Linked DNA regions of Homo sapiens. The protein of the gene in region 4 purifies or fractionates together with the protein of the main gene of each other region. This does not show direct contact. Each region holds a gene or a part of one and is shown on either strand. Other genes may lie near its edges.

Region 1 (6,193 bases), on a different chromosome or scaffold from region 4:
AGGACGCTGCCTAGGAAAACAGAAAACTTTCAGACAACAGGCCAGGCGTGGTGGCTCATGCCTGTAATCTCAGCACTTTGGGAGGTCAACATGGGAGGACTGCTTGAGTTCAAGAGTTCAAGACCAGCCTGGGCAATATGGGGAGGCCTCGTCTCTACAAAAAATAAAAAAAAATTAACTGAGAATGGTGGCGCATGCCTGTGATCCCAGCTACTCAGGAGGATTACTCGAGCCCAGGAGGTCAAGGCTGCACTGAGCCACGATCGCACCACTGCACTCCCCTCTGGGCGACAGAGGGAGACCCTGTCTCAAAAATGAGTGAATAGATAGAAATAGATAATAGACAAATGTACATCTTAAGAACCTAGAAAAGTAAGAACAAAATGCACCTTAAAGCAAGCAGAAGGAAGAAAATAAAAATAGAAATGAATAAAAAAATGTAGAACAAAAAAATAGAGGAAAAAACGAAACAAAGAGCTAATTCTTTGGAAGAAAAAATTCAATAACATAAGCAAATCTAGCTAATGGGTAAGCATATGCTAGATAAGGTGTCCTTTAAACCTCTAGCAAGGCTGACAAAGAAAAAAGAGAAAAGACACAAATTACTATTATAAGAATGATAAAAAGATATCACTATAAACCCTGCAGACATCAAAAGAGTAGGGAGGCCAGGCATGGGGGCTCACTCCTGTAATCCTAGCACTTTGGGAGGCCAAGGTGGGCGGATCGCTTGAGCTCAGGAGTTACAGACCAGACTGGGCAACATGGCAAAACCCCATCTCTACAAAATAAAATAAAATTAAATTAAATTAAAATAAATTAGTTGGATGTGACGGCACATGCCTGTAGTCCCAGCTACTGGAGAGGCTGAGATGAGAGGATCACTTGAGCCTGGGAAGTTGAGGCTGCAGTGAGCTATGATCACACTACTACACTCTAGCCTGGGCGATAGAAAAATGCCGTCTCAAGAACAAAAGACAAAAAACAAAAAGAATAAGGGACTATACAAACACTGACAACTTGGACAAAATGGATAAATTTATCAGAAACAAACCACAAGTCACCCATATGAAATAGATAATTGGAACAGTCCTATAAAAACTTTTAGGTTAACTAAATTCATAACTGTAAATCTCCTAATAAAGAAATCTCCAGGCCCAGACCGTTTCACTGGTGAGTTCTACCAAATACTTAAGAAAAGTTAACACCAATTATACACAATATCTTCTAAAAAACAGAAGAGGATGCAATGCTTCCTAATTCATTTTATGAAGTATTACTCTGATGCCAAACCAAAGATAGCACAAAAAGAAAATTAGACTCATATTCCTCATGAATATAGACACAATAACCCATAACAAAACATTAGAAGATAGAATTAAGAGATACACTATATGACAAAGTAGGGCTCATGCAAGACTGTCTCAATACTTGAAAATCAATCATATTAATCATATAAAATCACCATATTAACAGGCTAAGGAAGAAAAATCATATAATCCTATCAATCAACACAGACAAAACATCTGACAAAAAGTTAATATTGAAAGTTAATGATAAAAAAATTTCAGAAAAATAGGAATACAACAGAACTTTCATAACTTGACAAAGATCATCTACCAAAAATTTACAGTTAACATTATACTTAATGATGAAACAACAGATACTTTTCCCTTAAAATGGGAAACAAGGCAAGGATGTCCACTCTCACTACTCTTATTCAACACAGTGCGGAAGTTGCAGCCAGTGAAATATAGCAAGAAAAGGAGATAAAAGGCATACAGATAGAAAAGGGAGAAATAAAACTCTCCGTATCTGCAGATAAATAAAACCTCCATATTTGAAGATGATTGTCCACATTAAAAAAATGACAATCTATCCAAAAATACTCCTAGAACTGAGTCCAGCAATGTCACAGAATACAAGATAAACATAAAATTAACTGTATGTCTAGATTCTAGTAATGAACACCAAAATTATATATAATCACTTTATTCTAAAATTTACATGGAAAGACAAATGAGTTAGAATATCTAAAAACAATTGTGAAAATAAAGGATAAAGTAGGAGGAATGAGTCTGCCCAATTTCAGACTTAAACAGCTACAGCTTAAGACAGTGGGACTGACAGAGGAACATACATATAGATCACATACAGCTCAATCTAACACAGTGGGGAACTTAGAAATAGACTCACACAAATACGCTCAACTGATTTTTAAGAAAGGTGCAAAAGCAATTCAATGAGAAAAGATAGGTGCCAGAACACCCGAACATACTATCCACCCCACAAAAAGGAACCTCAAGTTAAATCTCACACTTGACATAAAAATTCAAAATGCATCACAGACTTAAATGTAATATGTAGGCCAGGTGCTGTGGCTCACGCCTGTAACTCTAGCACTTCAGGAAGCCAAGGCCGAAGGACTGCTTGAGGTCAGAAGTTCGAGACCACCCTAAGCAATACGGAGACACCCCCACCTCTACAAAAAATTTTAAAAATTAGCCAGGCATGGCAGCATGGATGTGTAGTCCCATCTACTTGGGAGGCTGAGGCATAAGGATCACTTGAGCCCAGGACTTTGAGGTTACAGTGAACTGTGACTGTGCCACTGTACTTCAGCCTGGGTGACAGAATGAGACCCTGTCTCTAAATAAAAAATAAATGTAATATGTAAAACAATATTACTTTTATTTATTTTTTAAATAGGAGAGAGTCTTTGAGATCTAGGACTAGGCAAAGAGTTAATAAGACCTGAAACTAAAAGCATGATCCATAAAAAGCGGTAAATTAGACTTAATCAAAATGAAATATTTTGGTTCTATGAAAGACCCTATTAAGAAAATGAAAACTACATACTGGGAGAAAATATGTGTAAACTACATATCTGACAAAGATTGCCAGATTTGTGATCATCAGGGATCATGGAAGGGTGGGGGTGGGGTTAGTATGGCCATAAGATAGCAACATAAGGGATCCTTGGAATCCATGAAAATGTTCTATCTCTCTCTCTCTCTTTTTTTTTTTTTTAAAGAGATAGGGTCTCACTTTGCTGCCCAAGCTAAGTGTAGTGGCACGATCATAGCTCACTGCAACCTTGAACTCCTGGGCTCAAACAATACTCTTGCCGCAGACGCCTGAGCTGACAGGGGCACAACATCATGCCAAGGTAGCTTTTAAATTTCTTGTAGAGACCAGAACTTACCATATTGTCCAGGCTGGTCTAGCCTCAAGGGATCCTGTGGCCTCAGACTCCCAAAGCACTGGGATTAAAGGTTCCCTATCTTAACTGTCAGTATCATGGTTGTGATGTTGTAGCATAGTTTTGACAAAATGTTTCCATCAATGGAAACTTTGTAAAAGGTACAAAGAATCTCATTTCTTAGGATTGCATGTCAATCTACAATTATCTCAAAACTAAAAGTTTAATGAAGACTTTTTTTTTTTTTTTGAGACAGGGTCTCTGTTGCCCAGGCTGTAGTTCAGTGGCACAAAAAAACAGCTCACTGCAACCTTGACCACCCAGGCTCAAGAGATCCTCCCACCTCACCTTCCCAAGTAGCTAAGACCACAGACACATGCCACCAGGCCTAGCTAATTTTTTTTTTTTTTTTGTAGAGATAGGGTCTCTCTATGTTGCCCAGGCTAATCTCAAGATCTTTAGCTCAAGTGATCCTCCCACCTCAGTCTCCCAAAAGTGATGAAAAAAAATTTTTTAATCAATAGTGAGGCTGGTTGAGGTGCCTCACGCCTGTAATCCCAGCACTTTGGGAGGCTGAGGCGGCTAGATTGCTTGAAGCCAGGAGTTCGAGACCAGCCTGGGCAACGTGGCGCAACCCCACCTCTACAAGAAATAAAGTAGCCAGGCGTGGTGGTGCATGTCTATAGTCCCAGCTACTGCAGAGGCTGAGGTAGGAAAATCACTTGAGCCCGGCAGACAGAGGCTGCAGTGAGCCGAGATCACGCCACTGTACTCAAGCCTGGGCAACAGAGTGAGACCTTGTCTCTAAATAAATAAACTGTGAAAAGCACAATCATGACCAATTACCACAGATTTCTTAAGTGTGAAATACCTAAGCCTCAACCACATTAACTAAATATTAAATTAAAATACTAATTTTAACTTTCTACTGTAAATATGTCTTAAAAGAGTCATATTTCCAGAGCTACTGGTATTAATAAAAGTCACATGATTACAACTGCAAGCTAAATATACAATGACGAATTATTACTAAAATTTTGAGGTCTAATTTAGGTATTTATGCTGCCCTGACAAAAAGCCTGAATTTTCTTAATCAAGAGAGTTGTTAAACCAATGAATAACGTGCACCTTCTACTTGCAAACACTATTCTGAAAAGTTTCGTATCTATATTCTTCATCTCTAACACTGAGGCTACATATGAGTCTAGAAGGGAAACAACAGAAGTTCACTCAGCTACTGGGATAAATCCAAGTGAGATGACTCCATATCAATCTAACTCACTGATAAAAAATACCTATTTAAGATAAACCACTTGTTTCTCATCTCTTCCATAAGTTTTCAACTTCCTCAAAAATTACTCTTAGAGCAAAAAGAAACGTTCAGACAGACCTTATTCAAAAAGTTCTCCCAGCTATAGTACACGCAATTTGGTCTCACATTACCAATTTTCTCGTTTAAAATATGTAAAATTTGCTCCCATATATATTTCTTTAAGTTTATATTCTTACAAAGGATTTGTTCATGGCACGTTTCACTTCATCAGAACCATCTGAATAGATCTGCTGAAATAATCTGTTTAAAGCTGCATCTCCCTCCAACTTTTCATTCTTTTCTTCTTCTTTGATCTCACCAACCAATTTATCCCAATTTCTTGTATAAGGAGATGATGATGGATATAGGTTCTTTACATCTATGAAGTAAAAAAAGGCAGAAGTAATTAATCAACATGTTTCAATTATGTCGAGAATATGTAAACTTTGTGACCATGTATATGGAACATCTTAGCAAACAGTTTAGGTTACTGAATTTCAGGTATGCAATAAGTGTCTTTCTGGTATATAGGTCAATAACAAAATTCACATTTCTAAAAACTGAGTCAGTTACCATAATGTAAAATCTGGGGATTTCTTTTGAGCAAAATAACTCAATAAAGTGTAAACTTTTGATATGCTATACAAAATTAGATTAAAAGCAGATTCTTCATGTTGATAACAGAAACTAGATGAAAAGTATACAGAACTTTTATGTTTTCAGAAAAGTTGCAGAGACAGTACGAACAATTCTAAAAATGAAATTTTTTAAAGGATGCCTAAGAAATCTTTTGTAACTAAGATTTTAATAAATGTTAAAAATGTGACTTTTTCTAAAGTACTTAGTATCTTTCAGAGTATAAATAGCCTGAAAATATAAATAATCATCCATGCCACTCCATACTCTCCCATCAAAAAAGTAAGATTATTTTAATAGGCAATAACAGTAAGTAATTTCTAAATGTTTAAAGTACTACACTTGATGATCTAAAGTTCAATGCCCACATCCCATACACCTAGCAAATAATAGTATTTGTAGGGCACACTGGAGTAAACAGAGCTGCTTGCAGCGAGAGAGGCTACTGGCCCAGGGGCTCGGGGTACTGCCAAGATTGCTCCAAAGACCAAAGGCATCAAGATCTTGGCACACAAATAATTAGAAAATAACTAGACAACCTAGTAGCTATAGGAGCAGCTCTGTTGACTATCCAATGAAAATATAATGACAGCCTCAAATGTGAGTCACATATATAATTTAAAACTTCCTAGTAACTACATTACTAAAAAGAATCAGGTGAAATGCAGTTTAATAATACATTTTATTTAACCTGATATATCAAATATAGTATCATATTGACTTGAAACCAACAGAGGCCGGGCATGGGGGCTCACACCTATAATCCCAGCACTTTGGGAGGCCAAGTAGGAGGATTGCTTGAGGCCAGAAGTGTGAGACCAGCCTGGGCAACATAGTGAGAGCCCATCTCTATGAAAAAAAAATAATAATAATTAGCTGGGCGTGGTGGCACATGCCTGCAGTACCAGCTACTCGGAAGGTTGGGGTAGAGGACTGCTTGAGTCCAGGAGGTTGAGGCTACACTGAGCCATGACAGTGCCACTGCATTCCAGCCTGGGTGACACAGCAAGACTCTCTCTTAAAAAAAAAAAAAAACCAACAAA
Region 2 (6,193 bases), on a different chromosome or scaffold from region 4:
AGATACCATGTTAAGTATCATACAGAATACAAAGCAAATAGAGAATAAAACAGACATGGTCCTTAACTTTGAAGTTGTTACAGCTCCAGCTATGTTGTGGTCCAAAATATTAAAAATCTTAAAAATTTCTTAACTCATTTTTTCAAAAGAAATCATTATAAAAATTGTGTTTTTGTTTCCAAGCAGTCCAATTGATACCTAACCTCTATTGAAAACATAGGTATTCTAGTGTTTCCTTAGAATGCAGGAAACACATTTGTAATTCCAAAAAGCTACTAGTTGCTGTTGATTCTTGCCTCCTGGTATGAAATAAGTTTTTTCCTGATCTTAATTCATAGTCTATGATGACTTTCTGTTAAGTGTGGAATTGACTGCCTATGTAAAACATCCATCTTGAACATAATTACCTTAATGCTGGAAGCTGGAATATTTTATTTTTATGTAGTTCAAAAATAAATCATGTTCTCTCATTAAATTCAAAATGTATTTAAGTTTCCAAACGACAAGGCTTTTTAAGACCACTTATAATTCAGAAAGTAGTACCCAAATGCAAACTAAAATTGACAGACTTCTGTTAAAAATATTTATAAACATTAAACCTACTAATCTTCCTTTCAACTCTAGTAATTTTAATATGCCCCTCAATTCATTTTACTTTAAATTCCATTGCCACTTACTTGCTCAAGGTCTTGTCTGAAAGAAGACATAGAAGAAGAAAAAACTGGGTGACAAAGTAGAAGAAAATTCTCAATACAAAGGAACATGAAGATTCCTTGGTAAGAAGAATTATATATGCTAACTCTCTTCACTGACAAGATGATTAAATAAAGTTAAACTTCCAAGTCACTGTAGCATGTTTGTTAAACACTGGAATTTGTCTCTGCATGTTAACATTAACATTCATGCACTGTGTGGGAGTTTTATAGATGTCAATGTTCATTTTTCCCCTCCTGCTTCCCCATGTTTCACATCTGTTTTCTATATATACTATCCCGTAACATAAGATTTTAGGGCATAGTGAGGGTATCTAGAGTTATATGCCCCAACAACAACAACAACAACAAAAAACAGCCTCTCAGAATGCTATGCCCTGAGTTTCTTATTTGTTATTTAATAGTAACTCTCCTTTCACTTTTATCTGGCTTTTCTCCATGTACTCCTATGAGATACACAAAGGTTTTCGTGATGAGGACAACCTGTTCCTCAAAAGACTAAGTTATTAAAGTGTTCACTAATGGAGCGGCACATCTAACATTTTTTACAGACTGAATATGCACTTTTATTTTTCAAATGTAAATAGATGCTCTTGAGATTGCATAACATAAATATACATTTTAAAAGTGCCACTGAGGTTATGGTAAATTTTTGAAATTAGGTCTAATTCTTAACAGACAAGGAATACAGCTCTTCATGAAAAGGGGACTAACTTTTTTTGTTAAAAGAGAAATAAAAGTTAGATAATAAATCAAAGGAAACTTTTCTCCTATAAGCAAATCACAAGTAGTCTGTAACACCTATAAAGTTGTTCCAAGTCATTCTAACCTTAGAGTATGATTCTCAACTATCTTCAAGAAAGCTGAAATTACTAAATAAATGAAGAATTAGTATACCCTTGCTCATCAATATTTCAAAAAAGTTGGTCAGGCATCTTAGGTTCTCATTATTTTTTTACCTAGCATATCCAGAAGATAGGGATTTCAAAGAGTCATAAAAATCTACCACAATTTCATTCAAAGGAAAGAGATATTTAAGCATAACTCTATTTTGATCAATAAATATCATATTCTTCTGAACTGCTCTTCGAGCCTAAAAAGGGAAGGAAGAAAATGGGTTTAATGATAACCTACTCAAATACTGAGGAATGATGTATTTCTCTAAAGGTCTAGTAAAAACTTATAGGCAGTATTTATAATCCAGAGAGAAACATTTTATATTTCAATTGCATTAGGCTTGCTACCAAAGCTTTTAATCTTTATCTAACAATTTTATCTTTTAAAATGAACACTATTTCATTTAACAGTAAATCAAATGTAACTACATATAAAGTCAAAAGTCCTAATTTCTTGTTTTACAAATAATTAGGTCCAGAGAAATTAAAAGTTAAGACCAAGATTACAATCTAGTTTTTAACCTAATCAAAGCTCAGTCACCATTTGACACACTTTCCAATATGTATCAGAGTATTTCACATAGGTATTTTTAAGGAATATAATTACATACCATTTGTGGATTAAATCATTTATTACAATGTGGTGAGAACTAAAGCAAAATGGGAGTACCTTCAAATTTATGGTCCCTGAAGTACTATAATTATCTTTCAAACTACTCAAAAAGGCGAAATTATACATTTAGCTAATTATCAAATTTCTTTCCTTTGGGCTAACATATCAAATCAGTAAATTACACAAATTATCAGAAATATTTTTATTTAAAATCAAAATAATTTAAAAAGTATACATATCTATGTGTATAGATATAGACAGATATATATATGAAAATCTCATTAAATTCAGTATGCTCAGCAGAAAGAAATCTTTTAAAACCTGAGTTGGAAATCACTATTTCAGAGGACTAAAACCTAATTTTGTATTAAATTGTATTATAGTTATACCTCGCAAAGCATCATTATTTTTCCAGTGTATTCATCTGGTGTGATAATAGTGCCCAAAACAACTGGCTCCAAATATTCTGTTACTTTTGATTTATCGGGGAATTGTGCAGGATTGATAATTGTAATTTCTTTTTCTCTATGTTCCTAAAAATTAGAAAAATCAGCAATACTTAAAATCTTAATATAATGATTATCATTTTTCTTGTTTGCCTTATATTTTAAAATCCCTCCAGCTGTAATCATTTAATATTAATAACAAGTATTAGTAAACAATATATTCCAATTATTGATATTTACTAAACATATTTCATGGACCATTTAGAAGAAGTATGACAAAAGAATACACTTTAACCTGACACTTATAAAACATTATAGTCTAATAAGTTAATTTTGTTGGAAAATATTTAGATTGCCAAAATTAGTATTTGTTTAAAATGAACAGATTGCCACTTACATGGAATACAATACTGTCTTCATCACTGATTTGAAATTTAAAATTTCCCAGTCACCAGAATGAATGCTTCACTTTTTACGAGATAAATTACTTATGACCAAAATTACATTTTTCATCTTTGTGCTAGAATCAGAACATTATTTTCACTACTAATTTTACCTTTTACTATCAGCAATAGACTAGTTTTGATAATCTGGAGATTACATCAGGTTAAGAAAAATATTGCATAAATTAGTTTTCAAAAAAGTTCTTCATCATTAGCCATAGGGTAATTCAATGTTTATTACTACTAATCAATAAATATTTTGTTTAATACTTAATCAGCTATTGGTATAGTAAAAAGCTTCTCCTGCATTGTATATACACACATTTATTTTTTCCAAGAGACTAATGCAAAACAGTACTAAATACCAGTACTAAATACCAAGTACCTTTATCAATTTTGATGATGACAGTACAGCTTTATATGGAACAGTAGGGGTTGTTAAAATAACAGAAGCATTATATTCTTGCTCCAGTCGCTGGTTGAAAACTTCCATGTGCAAAAGTCCAAGAAATCCTAGCCTGGGGGAGGAAAAGACAAACTCCAAAATGTTTATGTCCCATGGGCTTCATTTTTTTTTTTTTTAATGAACATATTGTTACTTTAAGGGAGGGATGGAATTAAGTCATTCAAACAATTCACAATATAATTAAATGCTAGCATAATTTTATTAAATAAGATTAAAATCTTCCATTGGGAATCTATTTTAAATCACTATAAAACTTACCCATAAAATGTCAATCCGCAACGTGAAACAGGCAGATAAAAATTGTTTTCGTTCACTTTACACTAATATAAACTTATTTTCAGTAAATGTTCCAGAACAATGCACCATTTTATACCTCCCTTACTTATAAAGATATTTTTTAAAAACCTCCCTTTCCTATAAAAATATTTTTAAAATACACCATTTACACCTCCCTTTCCTATAAAACACATGTGAATGAATCTTACCTCCAGCCAGCACCCAGAGCAAGGCTACTATCCCGATGAACGGTCACACTGGAATCATTTAAAGTCAGTTTTTCTATAGCACTCTTCAGATTGTTATATTCAGATTGGTCTAGAGGATACATTCCTGGGGATACAATGATTTCTAATTATCACGTGATAAGCTGCCTACAGACCTATCAAACCACATGTGTAGTGCTGCCAAGTTCCAAATTAGTCATTTACCTTTTAAATTACTTTCTTGTATTTTATTGACCAAAATATTGGTTTGCTAAAAATGAATGATTATTTGGTTTCAAAGTATCTTACAAGTCATTAGTCTGAAAGAATATACAACTAGATTTGCACTCCAAATAATGTTTTTAATGTTTTTGAAAAAATACAGGGAAAAGAAAAAAAAAAACATGGGAATTAGGCCTATTAAGAAAACACAGTGTAATTTCAAAAACAAAAGCACAAGACATTCCACAACCCAAATGAAACTTTATTATTGGATAAAAATAGAAGTAGACATGAAAACTATACTGCACTCTCAATTCTCTAAGGCAGATTATCTACTTAAAACCATAGTTAAATTTTGCTTTTTGGTATTTACTGACAAAAACTATGGGAATCACTACTGATTCTCTTTCATCTGACACCTCTGAAGTCCTCTAAAATCCACATGACTGACTTTGCCTAAAGGTAGGGGTAAACAAAGTTCCTAATTCCCAGTGAGAGAGACTGTAGGGCAAAAATTAAGGGCTAGATACTCAGCACAGAGTAACCTGATGACCTTCAATCAGGTCTTCCTTTTTCCAAAGTAAATGAAGTAAAAGATTCTGAAATTATACGTACTTGAGGCAACACCATTCTGTCATATCTACATTAGTACAGTACAATATTAAAGAAAGTCTATCGAAGATGAAGGCACTCAGTCAGTGTCTACTGATAATTACTAATAAGAACATCCTAATTAGAAAAATGTTTCAAATATAATAATGAACTCCCTAGAAAAATAAGAAAGAAATTTATATTACTGTATCCTATATATCACAGCTTCTTCCTCAAGAACTTATTTCTTAACACATCCTAAATGATCTCCCACATATAATTTCATCACACATATGTAATTATAAACTGATAAACAGCACAAAGTGAAACAATATGCTGGAATTAGTGGTTATTTAAAATAACCAGAATGTGTATTTTTTCCTTAACCACTGAGACAGACTTTTAGTTTAAAAATATCATGGCCCTCAACCTTTGAATTTGTGAACTCCTCACCTGCAAATACCATTGGTTTCGCTGATTTAAACCCAGGCAAGGGCTCCACTGGTTGCTTATGTAAACATAATGTATCTCCTATTTGCGCTTCAGTGACATCTTTCATCCCAGCAATCAGATAGCCCACCTGTCCTGCATATCTAAATAAAATTATTATATGCAAATATTTACTGCTTTAATGTTTCAAGCACATAACTCACAATTAGTTCTACCTTCCCAGGAAACTATCATACACTTTCCAAACTTTCCATACACTTTGAAAATAAGTGCTACATATCAATTATCAAACTCTGAAGCTTGTCAGCAAATGAACACACCAGGTCTTACAATCCATTAGACCTCTCTACTTATAAACCTAATGCCTTTTTCATGATTCTGCCAACCTTTGCAATTTAAACAGCAGTTTCTAAAATATATGTAAATACAGTGAAACTAGTAAGTACAAAAGCATTATAATAAGTACACTTGTGATGTCTTTTATTAATGAATTGTGTTGAAAATGTTCTTTAACAAAGGAAAAAAAGGTAAATTTTTATCCAAGAAAAATGTGAACTCTCAACAAACTGGACACTTGATATTCCTCCTGTAGCAAAAGAGCAAATCCTATGAGTTCAGTTTAAGCTTAGTTAAAAAAAAAAATCCCTACAAAACTAAAATGATTTACACTTAGAATGAGCTTTAAGAACCTTAAATGAAGATGTGATAATGTTTGGTATATATGGCAGAATATAAATAGATGTTAAAATATTTCAGTAAAATAAAAATAGACTTTCTGACTCAATATAGTGCTGTTTTTAGACATATAACACTAAACACTCAAATGTGATCTGACAGTCATCTGGTTCAATAATTTCTACAGACAAGGAAC
Region 3 (6,193 bases), on a different chromosome or scaffold from region 4:
TGGCACAATCACAGCTAACTGCAACCTCTGCCTCCCAGGTTCGAGCAATTTTCCTGCCTCAGCCTCCCGAGTAGCTGGGATTACAGGCATGAGCCACCATGCCTGGCTAATTTTTTTATTTTTTTTTTATTTTTAGTAGGGATGGAGTTTCACCATGTTGGCCAGACTGGTCTTGAACTCCTGACCTCAAGTGATCCACCTGCCTCAGCCTCCCAAACTGTTGGGATTACAGGCATGAGCCACCACGCCCAGCTGAGGGTTAACTTTCAATAGATCGCAGCGAGGAAGTTGCTCTGCTATGTCTGAAATCCCACCCCAGAAGCAGGTCATCTAAGAATGGTTCAGTGTCGGGTTCTCCATAAAAATGCATTGTGTAATGGGCAAGGGGGCGGCTGCCTTTCCAGCAGCACCACCTGATATCGTTTCAAAAGCTTAATTTAGGCCGGGCATGGTGGCTTACGCCTGTAATCCCAGCATTTTGGGAGGCTGAAGGTGGATCACCTGAGGTCAAGAGTTTGAGACCAGTTGGGTGCGATGGCTCACACCTGTAATCCCAACACTTTGGGAGGCCGAGGCGGGCGGATCACCTGAGGTCGGGAGCTCGTGACCAGCCTGACCAACATGGAGAAACCCCATCTACTAAAAATACAAAATTAGCCAGGTGTGGTGGCACATGCCTGTAATCCCAGCTACTTAAGAGACTGAGGCGGGAGAATTGCTCGAACCCGTGAGGTGGATGTTGCAGTGAGCCGAGATTGTGCTGTTGCGTTCCAGCCTGGGCAACAAGAGTGAAATGCCATCTCAAAGAAAAAAAAAAAAAAAGAGTTCAAGACCAGCCTGATCAACATGGTGAAACCCTGTCTCTACTAAAAATGCAAAAACAAATTAGCTGGGCATGGCGGCGGGCACCTGTAATCCCAGCTACTAGGGAGGCTGAGGCAGGAGAATTGCTTGAACCCAGGGGGCGGAGGCTGCAGTGAGCTGAGATCGTGCCATTGCACCACAGGTTGGGCAACAAGACTGAATCTCCATCTCAAAAAGCAAAACAAAACAAAACAAAAAACGCCTATTTGACCAGGTGCGGTCGCTCATGCCTGTAATCCCAGCACTTTGAGAGGCTGAGGTGGGCGGATGGCTTGAGCTCAGGAGTACGAGACCAGCCTGGGCAATATGGCGAGACCCTGTCTCTATTAAAAATAATAATAAATGAAAAAATTTTTTAAAATAAAAGCTTAATTTACAAAATATGTAAGGTTATAAAAGTAATGAAATTTAAGATTTGCCAGGCACGGTGGCTCACGCCTGTAATGCTAGCACTTTGGGAGGCTGAGGAGGGTGGATTACCTAAGGTAAGGAGTTTGAAACCAGCCCGGCCAACATGGCAAAACACCGTCTCTATTAAAAATACAAAAATTAGCCAGTGTGGCGGCAGGAGCCTGTAATCCCAGCTACTCAGGAGGCTGAGGCAGGAGAATTGCTTGAACCTGGGAGGCGGAGGTTGCAGTAAGCCGAGATTGCGCCATTGCACTCCAGCCTGGGCAACAATGGCGAAACTCCGTCTCAAAAAAAGAAAAAAAAAAAAGTCGGGTGCAGTGGCTCACATCTGTAATCCCAGCACCAGCACTTTGGGAGGTTGAGGCAGGCGGATCACCTAAGGTCAGGAGTTCAAAACCAGCCTGGCCAACATGGTGAAACCCCGTCTCTACAAAACTATAAAAATTAGCCAGGCATGATGGCGGGTGCTTGCAATCCCAGCTACTAGGGAGGCTGAGGTGGGAGAATCGCTTGAACCCAGGATGCGGAAGTTGCAGTGCACCAAGATTTCACCATTGCGCTCCAGCAGGGCGACAGACTGAGACTGTCTCAAAAAAACAAAAAAAAGAAATTTACGATTTATGGGGAAATACCCAATTAGCCAAGTTAGCTAATCCCTTTTAGAGATTACTTCTTTAGGCTGAGTGCAGTGGCTGACGCCTATAATCCCAGCACTTTGAGAGGCTGAAATGGGTGGATCACGAGGTCAGGAGTTCGAGACCAGCCTGGCCAATATGGTGAAACACTGTCTCTATTAAAAATATAAAAATTAGCCGGGTGTGGTGGCGCGTGCCTGTATACTCGGGAGGCTGAGGCAGAAGAACTGCTTGAACCCAGGAGGCAGACGTTGCAGTGAGCTGAGATCGTGCCACTGCTCTCCAGTCTGGGTGACAGAGCAAGTCTCCACCACAAAAAAAAAAAAGGATAACTTCTTTGGCTGGGTTCGGTGGTTTACACCTGCAATCCCAGCACTTTGGGAGGCCAAGGGGGGTGGATCCTTTGAGCCCAGGAGTTCGAGACCAGCCTGGGCAACATAGTGAAACCCCATTTCTCAAAAAAATTTTAAAAAGCCAGGCACAATGGCTCATGCCTATGGTCTCAGCTACTCAAGGGGGTTGAGGTGGGAGGATCACTTGAGCCCAGGAGGTCAAGGCTGTAGTGACCCATAATTGTACCACTGCACTCCAGCCTGGGTGACAAGGTGAGACCTTATCTCAAAAAAAAAAAAAAAAAATCATTTCTTTGCACTATAAGCAATAGTGCTATAAAGTGAACTGCTGCCAAAAAAAAAAAAAAAAAGTTACAGTACTTCCTGCTGTGAATAGCCAATACCAGCTGTAAGCCAGGTTTTCGTAAAGTATCTTACCTTAATCCATACTGTCTCATTGGTAAAGCTGAATGGTATGGATGGATTGTCCGGTATATGCTTGTTTAGAATACTGAAATTAATGGACTCTTTGGCAATTCGGGGTGGAGTCCCAGTCTTCAACCTTCCCACCACAAACCCTAACTTCTCCAGTGTCTGAGCCAATCCTATAGAAGGCTGATCCCCTAAACGTCCTGCTGGATGCGTCTCCAATCCAATTACAATCATGCCTCTCAGAAATGTCCCAGTAGTCAGAATCACACTCTCTGCATATACTGTGCTTCCATCCACTAAATAACAAGAAAAAAGAATAAAGTCATTATCTATGTATCTATGTATTTATGTATCTATGTATCTATCTATCTATCTATCTATCTGAGATGAAGTCTCACTCTATCGCCAGGCTGGAGGGCAGTGGTGCAATGTCCGCTCACTGCAACCTCCGCCTCCCGGGTTCAAGCAATTCTCCTGCCTCAGCCTCCCGAGTAGCTGAGATTACAGGCATGCGCCACCACGCTCAGCTAGTTTTATATTTTTAGTAGAGATGGGGTTTCTCCATGTTGGTCAGGCTGGTCTCGAATTCCCGACCTCAGGTGATCCACCCACCTCTGCCTCCCAAAGCGCTGGGATTACTTACAGGCGTGAGCCACCGCGCCCGGCCTAAAGTCATTTTTTAAATTGTTACCATGGATCAAAATGGAATGTGACTATTTTACATTACAACTACAGAAAAACTATCAGTCTTTAAAAACTTGAGAATCTTTTTTAATATTTTTGTTTTTTCAAGACTTATCGACATATAACAGACATATAAAAAACTGTATATATTTAGAGTATGCAACATGGTGTTTTGATACAAGTATACCTTCTGTGATGATACCCATAATCAAGCTAATTAATATAACCATCACCTCACATAGTTACACGTTTTGTGTGGTGAGAACACTTATGATCTACTCCCTTAGCAAATTTCAAGTATATCATACATTATTATTAACTGCAGTTACCATACTGCTCACTAGATTGCTAGAACTTATTCAACTTACAGCTGAAAATGTATAACCTTTGAGCAGTATCTTCCCATTTCCCCTACCCCAGACAAAGAATTTTAAATGAGTAAGAAGGCTAATATGTTATCAATCTCAATCTAAGCAATCTAGGAGAGAGAATACAATGTGTTATCACCAATTCACATGTACCTAAAATCATATCAGCACTAAAAAGTTAGTCTCAATTAATTTAAAAAATTAATTAATTTTAGACTTCAGGATAAATATGGCATACAACCTCTCATTTCTTCTCCCTTCTAAAACTCAAAGAAAATTAAATAGGGGAATAAAAAAGGTATAAAACCAAAAGGACAAGTAATGAAAAAGAACCAGTCAGAAGATGAGAAATTTCAATGTATTTTTGAAAGATAGAAAGTGTTTGGAAGAATGGTAACTCATCTAGCAGAGGGGAGATAGCTATAACTTAAGTATTAATATCTGAAGAGAAGATATATCAATGAGAATGAACTAATTTGCCCTGCAAAGGCTCAGAAATTAGAGAACTGAGAATAAGAACTGAGGAGGAATGTAGAAATGAAACTTGGAACAGAAAATGAAAGAAACAGCTGAAATTTACACATTAAGGTTTTGTCCTCAGATAGCTCTACCTTACAGTAAAATGGAGGTTTATTCTTCAGGTAATGGGGACTTTTTGTTTAATGGGTACAGAATTTTAATTTGGGATGATGAAAAAGTTCAAGAGACCGTTGGTGGTGATGGGTGCACAACACTGTCAATGTACTTAATAGCACTGAATTGTACACTTAAAAATGGTTAAAATGGTACATTTTATGGTTTGTATATTTTACCACAAAAAAATTGTTATTGTTGGGCCTATAAAATATGGACAGGATCACAAAATAGCATTTAAAGATATTAAATTAAATCGGCCAGGCTCAGTGGCTCATGACTATAATATGAACACTTTGAGAGACTGGGGCAGGAAGATCACTGGAGCCCTGGGGTTCAAGACCAGTCCTGGCAACATAGTGAGACCCCCATCTCTACAAAAAAAAATAATAAATTAGCCAGGGGTGGTGACACATGCCTGTGGTCCCAGCTACACAGGAGGCTGAGGCAGGAAGATCACTTGGGTCCAGGTGGTCGAGGCTACAGCGAGCTGTGATCATGCCACTGCACTCCAGCCTAAGAAAGAGGGAGAGAACTTGTCTCAAAAATAAAAAAATAAACAATTTAAGGGTATAAACATAAATACTAATAAAAACAATATAACCATTAAATCTGGAAAATAAAGAAAGTCGGGGGAGAAAAGGAAATGAAAGTAAAACTAATTTAGTAATTGTTACTTGAGGGAAGTCAGTGAGCATATTATATTATATATAAAATCATAGCTTTTAAGGTAACCATCGGAACAAACCCACAAACTTAAAAAAAAAAAGCATGGCCTCCAAAAGCAAAGCAAACACAGATTAAGTTTTTTTTTTAAAAAAAGGTACAGAGGAACAGTGTGTATAATATGCTACGATTTTGTGAAAACAACAAAAAATACATATACATATGCATGAAGACATGTACATATGCCTAGGTAGAAAGACCACACAACAGATTAACAAAGCAAATGCTCCTGAGAAAGAAAACTGGCTGGTTGAGGGGACAAAGTGAAGGAGACAGACTATCTTTTTTTTTTCTATTGAGACAGACTCTTGCTCTCTCACCCAGGCTGGAGTGCAGTAGCAAGATCTCAGCTCACTGCAACCTCCATCTCCCAGGTTCAAGTGATTCTCCTGCCTTAGCCTCCTGAGTAGCTGGGACTACAGGCGTGAGCCATCATGCCTGGCTAATTTTTGTATTTTTAGTAGAGACGAGTTTCGCCATGTTGGCCAGACTGGTCTCAAACTCCCGACCTCAGGTGATCCACCTGCCTCGGCCTTCCAAAGTGCTGGGATTATAGGTGTGAGCCATAATCACATAATGCCCATAATGCCCAGCTAAGACAGACTATCTTTTCACTCTATATGCTTTTTGTAGCCTTTAAGTTGTTGGCCCTAAGTATGTATTTCCCAATCAAGAAAATTAATAAATCTATAATAAAAATGAAAATGGGAATTAAGATATGTATTTTAAAAGATGACACTCCTGGGCCACGCGCGGTGGCTCATGCCTGTAATCCCAGCACTTTGGGAGGCCGAGGTGGGCGGACCACAAGGTCAGGAGATCGAGAACATCCTGGCTAACACAGTGAAACCCCATCTCTACTAAAAATACAAAAAAGTAGCCGGGCATGGTGGCACGTGCCTGTAGTCCCAGCTACTCGAGAGGCTGAGGCAGGAGAATCGCTTGAACCTGGGGGGCAGAGGTTGCAGTAAGCCGAGATCACGCCATTGCACTCCAGCCTGGGCTACACAGTGAGACTCTGTCTCAAAAATAAATAAAAAGAAAAAATAAAAATAAATAAATAAATAAAATAAAATAAAAGATGACACTCCCTGGCACAGCCTCTCTT
Region 4 (6,147 bases):
CGCAGCTTGGGCAGGTCTCGAAGCTTGGCCAGCTCCCCCAGGTTGGCCACCATGTTGCCCCTGCCAGTGTGGTCAGGAGGGGTTCATGCAGGAATAATGGGCTTTGGTTGCCAGTTGCTAGGAATGGGGCCTCTGGGGGACTCTCGGGGTTCCAGTGTCCCTAGAAACACTGTGAGGACTGGCCTGCCAAGCCTTGCCAGATTTACTGCAGAGGTGCTGTGTGACCCCGCTCTGGTCCTGCTTCTGCCCTTCAAGGAATCCCTAAGTGCCATATTCTACTCTGTAATACATTCATGTGTTCTTTTGGTGCAGCAAAGCTAGGCCACAACCCTGTCTTGTAGCTGGGGAGGAGAGGGCAAATTTTCCTCACAGGGAGAGACATTTTCTGTGATCACACCTAAATGGAGGGTAGAAGGTAGGACCCAGCCTGGGCAACATAGCGAGACCCCATCTGTACAAAAGCTAAAAATAAAAAAATTAGCTGGGCGTGATGGCATACACCTGTAGTCCTTGCTACTTAGCTGAGGAGGAGGGATTGCTTGACCCCAGGAGTTTGAGATTACAGTGAGCCGAGATCGAGCCACTGCACTCCACCCTGTAGGACCTAGGTCAGTGGACAAGGAACTGGGATCTAAGCTGGAGTTTAGGGTGGTGGATGCTCGGTTCGTGCTCTCCACAAAGAGAACCTAAGGCTATGGATGGGTTGGAGCCTCCCAACCTGAAGAATAAACTTCATCTCCTAATGTGCCTCATTATATGATACTCTGTTTTTATTTTATTTTTATTGAGACAGGGTCTCACTATGTCACCCCGGTTGGGGGTGCAGTGGCATGATCATAGCTCACTGCAGCCTTGAATTCCTGGGCTCAAGTGATCCTCTCACCTTAGCTTCCTAAGTACCTCCAGGCATGTGCCACCACACCTGGCTAATGTTTAAATTTTTTGTAGAGACTGGGTCTCACTATGTTGCCCAGGTTTGTCTTGAACGCCTGGCCTCAAGCAGTCCTCTTGCCTTGGCCCCCCCAAAGTGCTGGGATTACAGGCGTGAGCCACCATGCCTGGAATTTTATTTATTTTCATGTTCTGGCTTTAAGCTTTTATGAAATCTATTTAAGTGTTTCAGCCTGATCTCATGGTCGTGCTGAGCCTCATGCAGTGTTTCTCACCAGGAGGGCTACAGGAACTTTGTACTGGACTCTGCCATACATTGTTGGATGCTTAGCATCTCTGGCCCCAGAGGCACCTGCCAATCATTGAGACACCCTCACCCCCCTCCACACACACACCCGACTTACTCTCAAAACATCCCCATTTAATAGCCACTCAGGAAGGGTCCATCATGCCTGTCTAGATCATTAACAGGAAGATGGCACAGATACACACCCCACCAGATCCGTGTGGCAGAGTTCATGAATAAGAGAATGCCCAGGGGGTCAGGATGAGAGTTGGGGCTTCCAGATGCAACCACCTCTCCCTACTTGGAGATGCTCTTTCCATTACCAGCTCAAGAATCTGGTCTTGTTGACTAAGGAAAGAGGCAGTTTCCTTACATGTTTGCTGAAATAAACACACATAAAGTCCTCCATCCGACAAGAGTTGCTGATCTTCAGTGCCTTTCTACCAAAAGATTTTCTTACAAATGTCCTTCTCTCCTCAAATCTGAGCACATCTTGTGTTTTTTTAATCAGTAAAAAGGTCATCCCTTACAGGTGGGGCTCAGGAGAAGAGAGGCAGGAAATGGGAAGGTGAATTGGGACCGAGGAAATGGAGAAGGGCAGTGGAAACTTATATAGGATAGGGTGAGGAAAAAAGAGTTGGAGCCAGACTGTGAGCCCCTTAGGAACAGGAATCACCTCTGATTCCTTTCTTTCTTTTAGAGACAGCTCACTCTGTCACCCAGGCTGGAGTGCAGTGGCACAATCATGGCTCACTGCAACCTTGAACTCCTGGGCTCAAGTGATCCTCCAACCTCAGCCTCCTGAGTAGCTGAAACCACAGGTGTGCACCACCAGGCTCAGTTAATTTTTATTTTTAATTTAATATTTTAATTTTTATTTAATATTTTATTTTTGTTTTGTTTTTGAGGCAGGGTCTGGCTCTGTCACCCAGGCTGGAGTGCAGCGGCTTTATCTCAGCTCACTGCAAACTCCACCTCGAGGCTCCAGCGATCCTCCCGCCTAAGTCTCCTGAGTAGCTGGGATTACAGGTGCCTGTCACCATGCCTGGCTAATTTTTGTATTTTTGGTAGAGATGGGATTTTGCCATGTTGCCCAGACTGGTCTTGAACTCCTAGGCTCCAACGATCTGCCCACTTCGGCTTCCCAAAGTGCTAGAACTACAGGTGTGAGCCACCATGCCGGGCCATTATTTTCACTTCTGTAGAAACATGGTCTCACTAGGTTGCCCAGGCTGGTCCTGAACTCCTGGCCTCAAGTGATCCTTCCTCCTAAAGTGCTGGGAGTACAGGCATGAACCACCATGCCCAGCCTCTGATTGCTTTAAATGTCCCCAAAACACAGCACAAGGCCTGGCACATAGCACATTCTCAATAATTGTGGATTGAATGAATAAAAATTCAGGGGTCACAAGCTATAAGGGATTTAGTGTTGCAACTCAGTGCAGAAGAAAGGAAGGAAAGCCGGGCTTTCCTTGAGAATCCAGCTGTGGGCTAGGACTGGGGGATTGGGCCAGGGAAGAACACAGACTCAAAAGCTGCACCTGGTCAGGGGTAGGGGCAAGGTGGGGCTTGGAGAGGGTGCATACCTCAGGTTGAGGTACTGCAATGATTTCATTTCTCTGGAGAAGCCACTCAGGGTGTCAATCTGGTTGTCTCGAAGATGCAAGGTGGTGAGATTGCTCAGATCCTCCAAGCCTTCCACCTTCTTCAGCATGTTTTGGGCCTAGACCCCCAGGGCACAGTGGATTGATTGAGAGGGAGCAGGGATAGGGAAGAAAGAGAAGTCAGAATGAGATAAAGCAAAAGAGGAAATCCAAGAGGTAGAGAGGGAGGAGTGGAAGAAAGGAGTGGGGGTGAGTAGAGATCAGTATAGAAAGTAAAGAAGTTCAGGAGAAGCTGCCATCCCAGAGAAAGGTCAGCAGTAACCCTCTACCATTCGCCCCATCAAAGCCACTTGGGATGGAGGAGATGCTTCAACCCACCCCTACCCGGCCCAGGAGCCCCCAGGCCACCACTGAGGATTGGCATCAGCACCATCCCAGAATAACGAAGCTTAAGAGTCTAAAAGACTAAATATTTCAGTGGCTTCCTGTGGAGTTATTATATATATAATATATAATATATTATATAATATATAAAATATATATTATATATTATATATTATATACTATTATATATAATATTTATATATTATATATAATATACTATTATATATAATATTTATATATTATATAAAATATATTATATATAATATACTATTATATATATTTATATATTATATATATTATATATAATATATACTATTATATATATTTATGTATTATATATAATTATATATAATATATTATATATAATTATATATAATATATAATTATATATTATATCTAATTATATATATTATATATAATTATATATTATATATAATATATAATTATATATTATATATTTTATATATAATATATAATATATAATATATAATTATATATTATATATTATATGTAATTATATATTATATATAATATATAATTATATAATATATAATATATATTTATATATAATATATAATTATATAATATATAATATATATATCGGTTTTCATCCACAGTCCCTAGCTTATAACCCCCATAATAGCCCTTCTTGCAGTCTTTTGTTATAAAGTTGGGTGTGCTGGGCCTCAGGGGCAGGTCTCAGGAACTTCTCCAGCCGTCTTTTCACCTGCTCCAAGAGAAAGCGCTAATCTTTCCCCCCACTCCCTCTTTCTGACTGTGATTCTTTCTTTTTTTTTTTTTGAAACAGAGTCTAGCTCTGTTGCCCAGGCTGGAGTGCAGTGGCGCAATCTCGGCTCACTGCAAGCCCCGCCTCCTGGGTTCACGCCATTCTCCTGCCTCAGCCTCCCGAGTAGCTGGGACTACAGGTGCCTGCCACCACACGCAGCTAATTTTTTTTTTTTGTATTTTTAGTAGAGACGGGGTTTCACCGTGTTTTTCTTTGGTTTTTTTTTTTTTTTTTTTTTTTTGAGATGGAGTCTTGCTCTGTCTCCCAGGCTGGATTGCAGTGGCGTGATCTCAGCTCACTGCAAACTCTGCCTTCTGGGTTCAAGCCATTCTGCTGCCTCAGCCTCCCTAGTAGCTGGGATTACAGGCGCATGTCAGCACACTGGGCTAATTTTTGTATTTTTAGTAGAGACAGAGTTTCGCCATGTTGGCCAGGCTGGTTTCGAACTCCGGACCTCAGGTGATCCGCCCGCCTCAGCCTCCCAAAGTGCTGGGATTACAGACATGAGCCACCGCGCCCGGCCTGATTGTGGTTCTTAAGACCCTCCCCAGCGACAGCCTCCCCAGTTTCCTGGGGGAAGGAATACTAAGATCATGAAGCTTCCATGAAAAGCCAAGAGGACTGGGTCCAGAGAGCTTCTGGGTAGCTGAACACGTGAAAGCTTTTGGAGGGTGATGCATCTGGGAAGGGCATGGAGCACTGCACCCATATCCCCATACTTCGCCCTAAGCATCTCTTCATCTGTATCCTTTGCCCTTGCAATAAACTAATAAAAACCACTCTAGAAAATTAATTAAATCCAGAGAAGAGGTCATGGGAACCAGCTTCATGTTGAAGCTGGTGTGTCAGAAGTTCTGGAGGCTTGGACTTGCAACTGGTGTATGTGGGCGGTGTAGGGGTCACTCTTGGGAACCGAGCCCTCAATCTGTGGGATTTGATGCCATCCCCAGGTAGACAGTGAATCGAATTAGAGATCACCCAGCTGGTGTCTACTACTTGGTGTATGGGGAGAAACCCCCACACCTTTGGTCCCGGAAGTCGTATGTTGATGATTGTTGTGGTGGTAGTGTAAGAGCTGAAGAAAAACCCAGTCTGAGAGGAGGGTTTTCCTAAAACATTTCCACAGACTGATGTTTGTACCTCAATTATGGTCCATTTTGCTACTACCTGTATCAAGGTAAATTATCTCTGTATTATCCACACATTATATATTATCAGCCCTGCTAGGTGGCTGTGTATCTCCACAGCATCTGGAACCAACTATGGTCTTGATAATAATACCAGTTATTATCATAATGATGAAGTTAGTAGCTGAGCCTACTAGAAAGCAGGCATCCTGACCCCCAGGACAGTGCCCTCTTCCCTGCACCACCCTCTGACCCAGTGAGCTACCAGGTAGAGGTTCTTCAGCTTAGGAAGATTGATTCCCAGGGTGCTTTCCAGCTGGTTCCCCCGAAGCTCCACTGTGTGCAGGCTGATCAACTTCTCGGGGTCCAGACCTGTCACCATGTGGATGCTGTTCCCTGGGGAGGAGGGTTTCAAGAGCTCAAAGGGCCACTCCAAATGCTCAGCATTAGAGCCTGAATTTGGGGAGCCTCTAAATCATCCTACCATTCGCAAAGCAGGGTAGATACTGAGGAAGGCCAGCTCCAGACTTAATACCTCTGGAGCCCTGAGGCAAGTGGTGTGGTAGGTAGTCCAAGGTCCTGATGGACATATCCACCTAAGCCTTTGAAGAGTGAATGAAGCAGCTGACATGTCTAATTCCCTCTCCTTCTTCAATTCTTTGCTCAAATGTCATCTTCTCAGTGATGGTTGTCCTAACCAATCTATTTGACATTGCCACCTGTGTCCCCCATTCCTCTTACTCTGATCTATTTTTTCCAAGGCACTTGTCTCCTTTTAACATGCTACATGAATGTACTTACTGTGTTTGTTGTTACTTGTTTGTCTCTCCCAATTAGAATATAAGCTATATGAGAATAGGGACGTTCCTTGTCTTATTGGATCCTATATGGTTAGCATGTAGAACTGTCATAATGAATCATATTGCGTATCTGAATGAATGAATGAATGCAGACTGCCATGTGCCCTAGCCAAGGACCATACTGCCCACTTCTGTTGGCCTCAGGCTAGGAAGGAAAGAATCTTGTGTAGCCCATCCTAAAGACCCACCTTTGAGATTCAGGGTTTCA
Region 5 (6,193 bases), on a different chromosome or scaffold from region 4:
ATCTCTACAACCAGGTCTTCACTCTGTTCCGCCTCTAGCTTCAGCTGGGAAAGATCTGATAGATTAAGGAAGTAAAAATTCTTGCCACAAGGCAGGTAAGCTGGAAGCAGAGAAGGAAAGGGCCTAAAACGAAGCCCTTGGGCACAGTCTGGGTCACTTCAAGCCTCCTGGCAGCCCTAGGGTATATTATATCCCTATAGGGTACAGTACTTTTCTTTTTTTTTTTTCTTTGAGACGGAGTCTTGCTCTGTCGCCCAGGCTGGAGTGCAGTGGCACTATCTCGGCTCACTGCAAGCTCCGCCTCCTGGGTTTACGCCATTCTCCTGCCTCAGCCTCCCGAGTAGCTGGCACTACAGGCGCCCGCCACCACACCTGGCTAATTTTTTGTATTTTTAGTAGAGACGGGGTTTCACCATGTTAGCCAGGATGGTCTCGATCTCCTGACCTCGTGATCCGCCCGCCTCGGCCTCCCAAAGTGCTGGGATTACAGGCGTGAGCCACGGCGCCTGGCCTTCTTTTTTGTTTTTGAGAGGAGTCTCGCTCTGTCGCCCAGGCTGGAGTGCGGTGGCAACATCTCAGCTCACTGCAAGCGCCGCCTCCCGGGTTCATGCCATTCTCCTGCCTCAGCCTCCCAAATAGCTGGGACTACAGGCACCCATCACCATGCCCGGCTAATTTTTTGTATTTTTTTAGTAGAGACAGGATTTCACCATGTTAGCCAGGATGGTCTCGATCTCCCGACCTCGTGATCTGCCCATTGCCTCCCAAAGTGCTGGGATTACAGGCATGAAGGGTACAGTACTTTTCTAATTGTACTAATGAGGAAACCTAAAAGTGGAGACGCTACGTGCCTCCTTCAAGGTCACATGGCTGGTCAGTGGCTGAGCCCAGCCCTCTCGCACCACCCCCGGCTGTGGTCAGGACGCTCAGCAATGCGAACTCACCCCAGCTTGTGATGAAATGAGCGTGTTTCGTTCAGAATTTCACCTCCATTCTCAAGTTCATTGATTTGCCTCTGAATTTCATAGTCTAGGAAAAACACACTAATTTAGCATCATATTTTGATTATACCTTTCATCCAGTCAAGCAATAATTAGAAACAACCTTTCTCAATCTCTAAGTTAAAAAAAAAAAAAATCAAGAAGATTGTTTATAATAATCCTTCCCTTACACACTATATTTCCTTCTCACTGCCATCGTAGAATATTGGTGTTGGAAAGGGCCTTAGGAAGGCAGGCTCACTCCGTGTTGAGACAATTCAGGTTCAGAGAGATTAAGCAACCCCATGCAGATGACATGACTTGGCAGAAGTGGGGCTGGGCCCAATATCTCGGTCTGAGATTGCTGCCTACCCAGGGCCCTTACCCTGGGAGTCTGGGATGGGCTTCAAAGGCTCTGGTATCCCCAAAATTATACACAAAGTGTGGGTTGTGTGCATATGTGCAGGTTTTGGAGAGAGGGTCCAGCATTTACATTATCTTTTCAGAGGGACCCACGACCCCAAATGATTAAGATCCAAGGACCCATGCCTCAGCATCAAATGAGGGAGGCTGTGGGAATCAAAACACAACCACAATTGCTAAGCTGTTGCTGCTTTTTTTTTCTTTTTTTGAGAGATGGGGGTCTCACTATGTTTTCCAGCCTAGTCTCAATCTCTTGGTCTCAAACAATCCTCCTGCCTTGGCCTCCCAAAGTGCTGGGATTACAGGCATGAGCCACTAAGCCCAGCCTGCTAAACTGCTTTATGAAAATATCTTGAGCCTCCACCTTAACTCTCCCTCCCACCATGTACTACCTTCCCTTGCCCAAACCTAAACCCTTTTATCTGAGTTGCTAAGAGGCAGCAACAGCAAAACGTGTCAGTTTTTGCTCCCCATCTCTCCCCAACTCCAGTGATCTCTTTGGTTGACACGAGATGATGGCTAAATGGCCTGACATAGGGAGAAAAAGGTGGTGAAAAATCACAGGCTTGGAGAATTGAACCCATAGTAAAGCTTTGGCTCTTCCACTCTGAGTCAGACCACAGGGAGATTTCTCCCTCAGACTGGTCCTCCAAAGAGTTCTTCATAGGACAGGAGAAGGTTAGGGGTCTCCTTCAGAACTCATGGATGACTCTACCTAAAATTGGGCTGCTTTTTTAAGGTTACCATCACCACCTCTTAAAATAACGGGTCCCAGCCCACTACCTACAGGGGGAGGTGGAACTTCCTCCATTTGTTCCAGGCTTCCTCCTCACCAACTTGGCTTATAAGGGTTTTCCCTGACTCAAACCTTTCATGGCTTTGGGAACATGGGCTATGTCCCTTTCCGGATGCAGAACAGTTCACCATCTTTAGTCTGCCTTCATATAGGAGCCTATCCCTTCCCTCTCTGCTCCCATAAGCTATCCGTTTGACCACTTTAATGCCTTTTTCCTGAAGACTGTCTTCATTGAGTGGTTGATTCACTTCAGGTTCAGGACAATAAGGTCTAATACAAGACTAGAATCATCTTTTCTGTACTGTTTCTAATACTTTTCTTGACAAGACCAGGGCTCTATTAAACATTTTGGCTACAGCAAAACTTTGGCAACAGATTCAGTTGTCTTGGTCTCTGTGCACCCTTGAAGGGGTGCACTTCAAACTCCATCCCTCCCTCTTCCTCTCTAGATAGCTTCGGTTTTAAAAAATCTTTTTAGTCCTCTGAGGTCCTCCCCTTGAATTCACAGTTACCTATATCTACGGGACTGCTCAGATATTTATCTTGCTAAACTATTTTAGTTATTATACATTTATCATCAAAGAAATACCCACAGTGTGTGCTCCAGAAAGACTACTACTTCACTGCATGGGCACATAATCTAGCAGTTAAAAAGAATATAAAAAGCAGGAAAACATAATGACCATTTAGGTCAAGCCATGGTCAATCTAAAATGAACAACCATGACCTAGTAAATCTCAAGCTGGTCAGAAAGAAGGTGGTAAATGGTAAAACACAGCCATGATCTTTTGTGGATCCTCTGATAAAGAGGTGGAGTCTAATTTCCCCTCAAGTCTGCTTTGAATTCAATGTAATTTTCTTTTTTTTTCTTAGAGACAGAGTCTTGCTCTGTCGCCCAGGCTAGAGTGCAGTGGCGTGATCACAGCTCACTACAACCTCAAACTCCTGGACTCAAGTGATCCTCCCACCTCAGCCTCTTGAGTAGCTGGGACTACAGGTGCTCACCACCATGCCTGGCTAAATTTTTAATTTTTTATAGAGATGGGGTCTTGCTATGTTGCCCAGGTGGTCTTGAACTCGTGGCCTCAAGCAATCCACCCACCTTGGCTTCCCAAAGTGCTGGGATTATAGGCATGAGGCACTGTGCCTGGCCTCAATCTACTTTGAATAGAACACATTGGAAGTGACACTGTGTGAGGTCTACAGCTTAGGACTCACTTCTGCCTTCATCCTCCCGAAATGCTCCCACTGCCTCATAAGAAAGCCAAGGCTAGGCAAGTGCATGAAGAAAGATCACATGGATGGAGAAGCCCAGCAGACATCAGCATCAAGGCCCCAAGGTATGAGAGCGACTACCATGGACCCTCTGCTTCAGCTGGCCTGCCGGTTTCCCACAGCCACATGAGTGAGCCGACACAGGACCAACAGAACGGACCAGTGAAAACGAAAGTAGTTCTTGTGTAAGCCACTAAGTTTCTGGGTTGTTTGTTACCCAGCAAGAGAGAAACAATAGGAAGAAGGACACTAGGAGCGGCAGCTGGCATTCACCTATGGCTTTGGCCAGGAACCTGATGCTGTTGAGATTCTTCACTTCCGTTCGAACGCCCAAAGGCTCCCCAGGGTGATGCACGGATATATTGGCATCCACTCTCAACTGGCCCTCTGGAAGGAGAGAAGAAAACAACTCCTTAGAAATTCTTTGAGGTGACATAGTCTTTTAAAGGCAGGGAGTGTCAAAGGAAGCAGCATCTAACTCTACCTGCTGTTTAGTTATAGCAGCCTAACTTCAGAGAAGGCACGGTTGGTTCTGAAGTAGGTCGTGGCTGGTACTTCTGGCCACTCGAGAGGGGTTACAGTCCTGAGGCATCTACAGTGTGTGCCTGTACATGTGAACATATACAGATGTGTGTGCTTATGCACATATGGAAGAGAAGTTTTAGATTCGCCAGCTGGAGAGATCTAATTTTTTTGTGCTAAACAAGAAAAACAAAACTATTAAAATGGAGATTGACTCTGCAGTTTTATACTGAAGTTTTTTTTCAAAGTGTCAGAGCTGAGTTGGAGGAAAGGCCTCATATATCTGATAACCCTACACTGCTCTCCATTGGAATGTGGATTTCTAACAGTGATTCCAGGAGATTTAGAGGAGAGTCCTTGAGAATTTGCAGCTCAAGGGCAAGAACTGAAATCTGGGCTTTCCCCCCTCCTCCTTCCTCCAGGTACTGTAATAATCTCTTCCTTCCACAAACATGACTCCGAATCCTTCCTGACTGCTCTAACGATTTGCTACAGCAGACAGACAGCACTGTTACGAAGTCAGGAGTCTGTGGTGGGACTCAGAGAGGTGCTGACCCCATGCTGGGAGGACCTTCTTTGACCCTGGAGGCCCCTCAGATTAGGAGCAACAAGCCCTAAAGAAGCAGGCAATGTGTGGGGAGGACTAAAAGGCTCTTGAGGAAGAGAGAGAGAGAAAAATCCCAAGACAAATAGATGTAGGTAAGAAAGAATCACATTTGGCACCCTACAAAGTAAAGCTCTCAGATTCTCTGTTCCTCGTTTCATTTACAACATTTAAAAGAGAACAGAGTGAGAAGACAAAATGCTGGATTTTATTTTCCTAGTTACGTTTTTAAATTAAAAGTAATCTGCCAAACCTGAGTGTCTTGATGGGCTGAATAAATTCATTTCCCAAGATTCCAAAGCAAAAGCATATTAAAATAATAAAGTAGTCAAAATGAATTCCATGTCAAGAAAAGGAGACCCTTGGAACTGGTTCTCTGTCATTCTCCCAGTGCTGGGCTGTGGGGCCTATACCAAGCTGGAGGTCGCCGGCGGCCCGTGGCTGACACCTCACCACTCACCCTCAGAGAAAGGGAAGGGCTCGCCCAATTGCCACCCGTGCTGACAGGGAAAAGATGTCTCTTAGCTCAGACATTACTCTCTCCAGCACTGACTTCTCAACACTTTTACAAGAATTCTGTAACCCCTGATTTTTAATCCCTTTTTTGACAAGTTGTGTGTATCTGCATCTCAGGAAGTCCCAACTATTCCTGACACCGTGAGACTCTCGGTCTAGGAACCCTGAGGTCATCTTCTACTTCTCTGTTTTCTTTGCCCCTTATATCCAAACTGGCAACTAGCCCCTACCAGTTTGGAAGCTGTCAAATATCACTAATGTCTGTCACGGCCTTTCCATTTCCATGGCTACCACCCTTGCCCAAGGTGCCTCGCCCGAGGTCTCCGAACTTTAGGCTTAGGTGATAAGAGCACATCCTGACTCAACACAGTTCCCTCCTTGTCCAGGGACTGGCAATGTGGCTGTAACTTTCATCCTGCTATATATAGTCTGGGTTCATCATTCCTGCTGTTTACTCAACAGCACAGACAGCTCCTACCGGATTATCTGGGCTCCTCTGCTTGGTGCTCCACAGCTGTCATCTGGATTCAGTCGACATAACCTGTATGTTCCCACTGCTCATTCCGGGAGAAAGCTCCCCTCCAATCAGGGCAGCCTTCTGTATACACAACCCTGTCTGCTCCACCAGCACGCTCTCTTTATCAGAGCTACTGTCCCTCTCCTCATCCCTCAAGGACTCACTTGAGTGTTACCGCCTCCTCCTAGAAGCCCTCCTCAGCAAGCTGGCCTGCACTGGTGGGTCCCCTAAACTATCAGAATACTTATAATCTATACTACAGAATTCAGTACATGACCATAGTCTTCTGTGCACTGGCCTCCATCTTTAAGACCAGAATGAAAGGCCCCTGAGGACTGAGCCAGATTTTAACTCCCACTTGCCTTCTCAAGGGCATCACTCTCAGTTATCCCTTCTCTCCCATACCAGTCATTACTCTTTCTCAGCATTCCATCTGACGTATACATATGCAATAGTATTTCTTATTAAATGAACAAACAAGAACCCCAAAACCTATTCCCTTGAACCCAGTTCTCACTCTATCAGTCACTCATCTATCGTTTCTCTGGTTTCCTTTTCAG

Evidence for each region.
Region 1: the proteins of LRRC23 (region 4) and SUGT1 purify together in Homo sapiens (affinity purification with mass spectrometry; one large-scale study listed by BioGRID and IntAct). This does not show direct contact.
Region 2: the proteins of LRRC23 (region 4) and GUF1 purify together in Homo sapiens (affinity purification with mass spectrometry; one large-scale study listed by BioGRID and IntAct). This does not show direct contact.
Region 3: the proteins of LRRC23 (region 4) and MTO1 purify together in Homo sapiens (affinity purification with mass spectrometry; one large-scale study listed by BioGRID and IntAct). This does not show direct contact.
Region 5: the proteins of LRRC23 (region 4) and GATB purify together in Homo sapiens (affinity purification with mass spectrometry; one large-scale study listed by BioGRID and IntAct). This does not show direct contact.

The regions. Positions count from the first base shown.
Region 1 is NC_000013.11:52,678,674-52,684,866, reverse strand, and holds part of SUGT1 (protein SGT1 homolog), read right to left. Parts: intron 4,894-6,193; coding exon 4,712-4,893; intron 1-4,711. UniProt on the Homo sapiens protein: May play a role in ubiquitination and subsequent proteasomal degradation of target proteins.
Region 2 is NC_000004.12:44,687,279-44,693,471, reverse strand, and holds part of GUF1 (translation factor GUF1, mitochondrial), read right to left. Parts: intron 5,466-6,193; coding exon 5,326-5,465; intron 4,187-5,325; coding exon 4,063-4,186; exon of another isoform or gene 4,062-4,062; intron 3,630-4,061; coding exon 3,497-3,629; intron 2,756-3,496; coding exon 2,612-2,755; intron 1,807-2,611; coding exon 1,673-1,806; intron 1-1,672. UniProt on the Homo sapiens protein: Promotes mitochondrial protein synthesis. May act as a fidelity factor of the translation reaction, by catalyzing a one-codon backward translocation of tRNAs on improperly translocated ribosomes. Binds to mitochondrial ribosomes in a GTP-dependent manner.
Region 3 is NC_000006.12:73,470,142-73,476,334, reverse strand, and holds part of MTO1 (5-taurinomethyluridine-[tRNA] synthase subunit MTO1, mitochondrial), read right to left. Parts: intron 2,971-6,193; coding exon 2,681-2,970; intron 1-2,680. UniProt on the Homo sapiens protein: Component of the GTPBP3-MTO1 complex that catalyzes the 5-taurinomethyluridine (taum(5)U) modification at the 34th wobble position (U34) of mitochondrial tRNAs (mt-tRNAs), which plays a role in mt-tRNA decoding and mitochondrial translation.
Region 4 is NC_000012.12:6,906,643-6,912,789, reverse strand, and holds part of LRRC23 (leucine-rich repeat-containing protein 23), read right to left. Parts: coding exon 6,128-6,147; intron 5,476-6,127; coding exon 5,345-5,475; intron 2,901-5,344; coding exon 2,764-2,900; intron 61-2,763; coding exon 1-60. UniProt on the Homo sapiens protein: Essential for sperm motility and male fertility. Plays an important role in the proper assembly of the third radial spoke (RS3) head and the bridge structure between RS2 and RS3 in the sperm flagella.
Region 5 is NC_000004.12:151,704,241-151,710,433, forward strand, and holds part of GATB (glutamyl-tRNA(Gln) amidotransferase subunit B, mitochondrial isoform 1 precursor), read right to left. Parts: intron 3,862-6,193; coding exon 3,748-3,861; intron 1,030-3,747; coding exon 945-1,029; intron 1-944. UniProt on the Homo sapiens protein: Allows the formation of correctly charged Gln-tRNA(Gln) through the transamidation of misacylated Glu-tRNA(Gln) in the mitochondria. The reaction takes place in the presence of glutamine and ATP through an activated gamma-phospho-Glu-tRNA(Gln).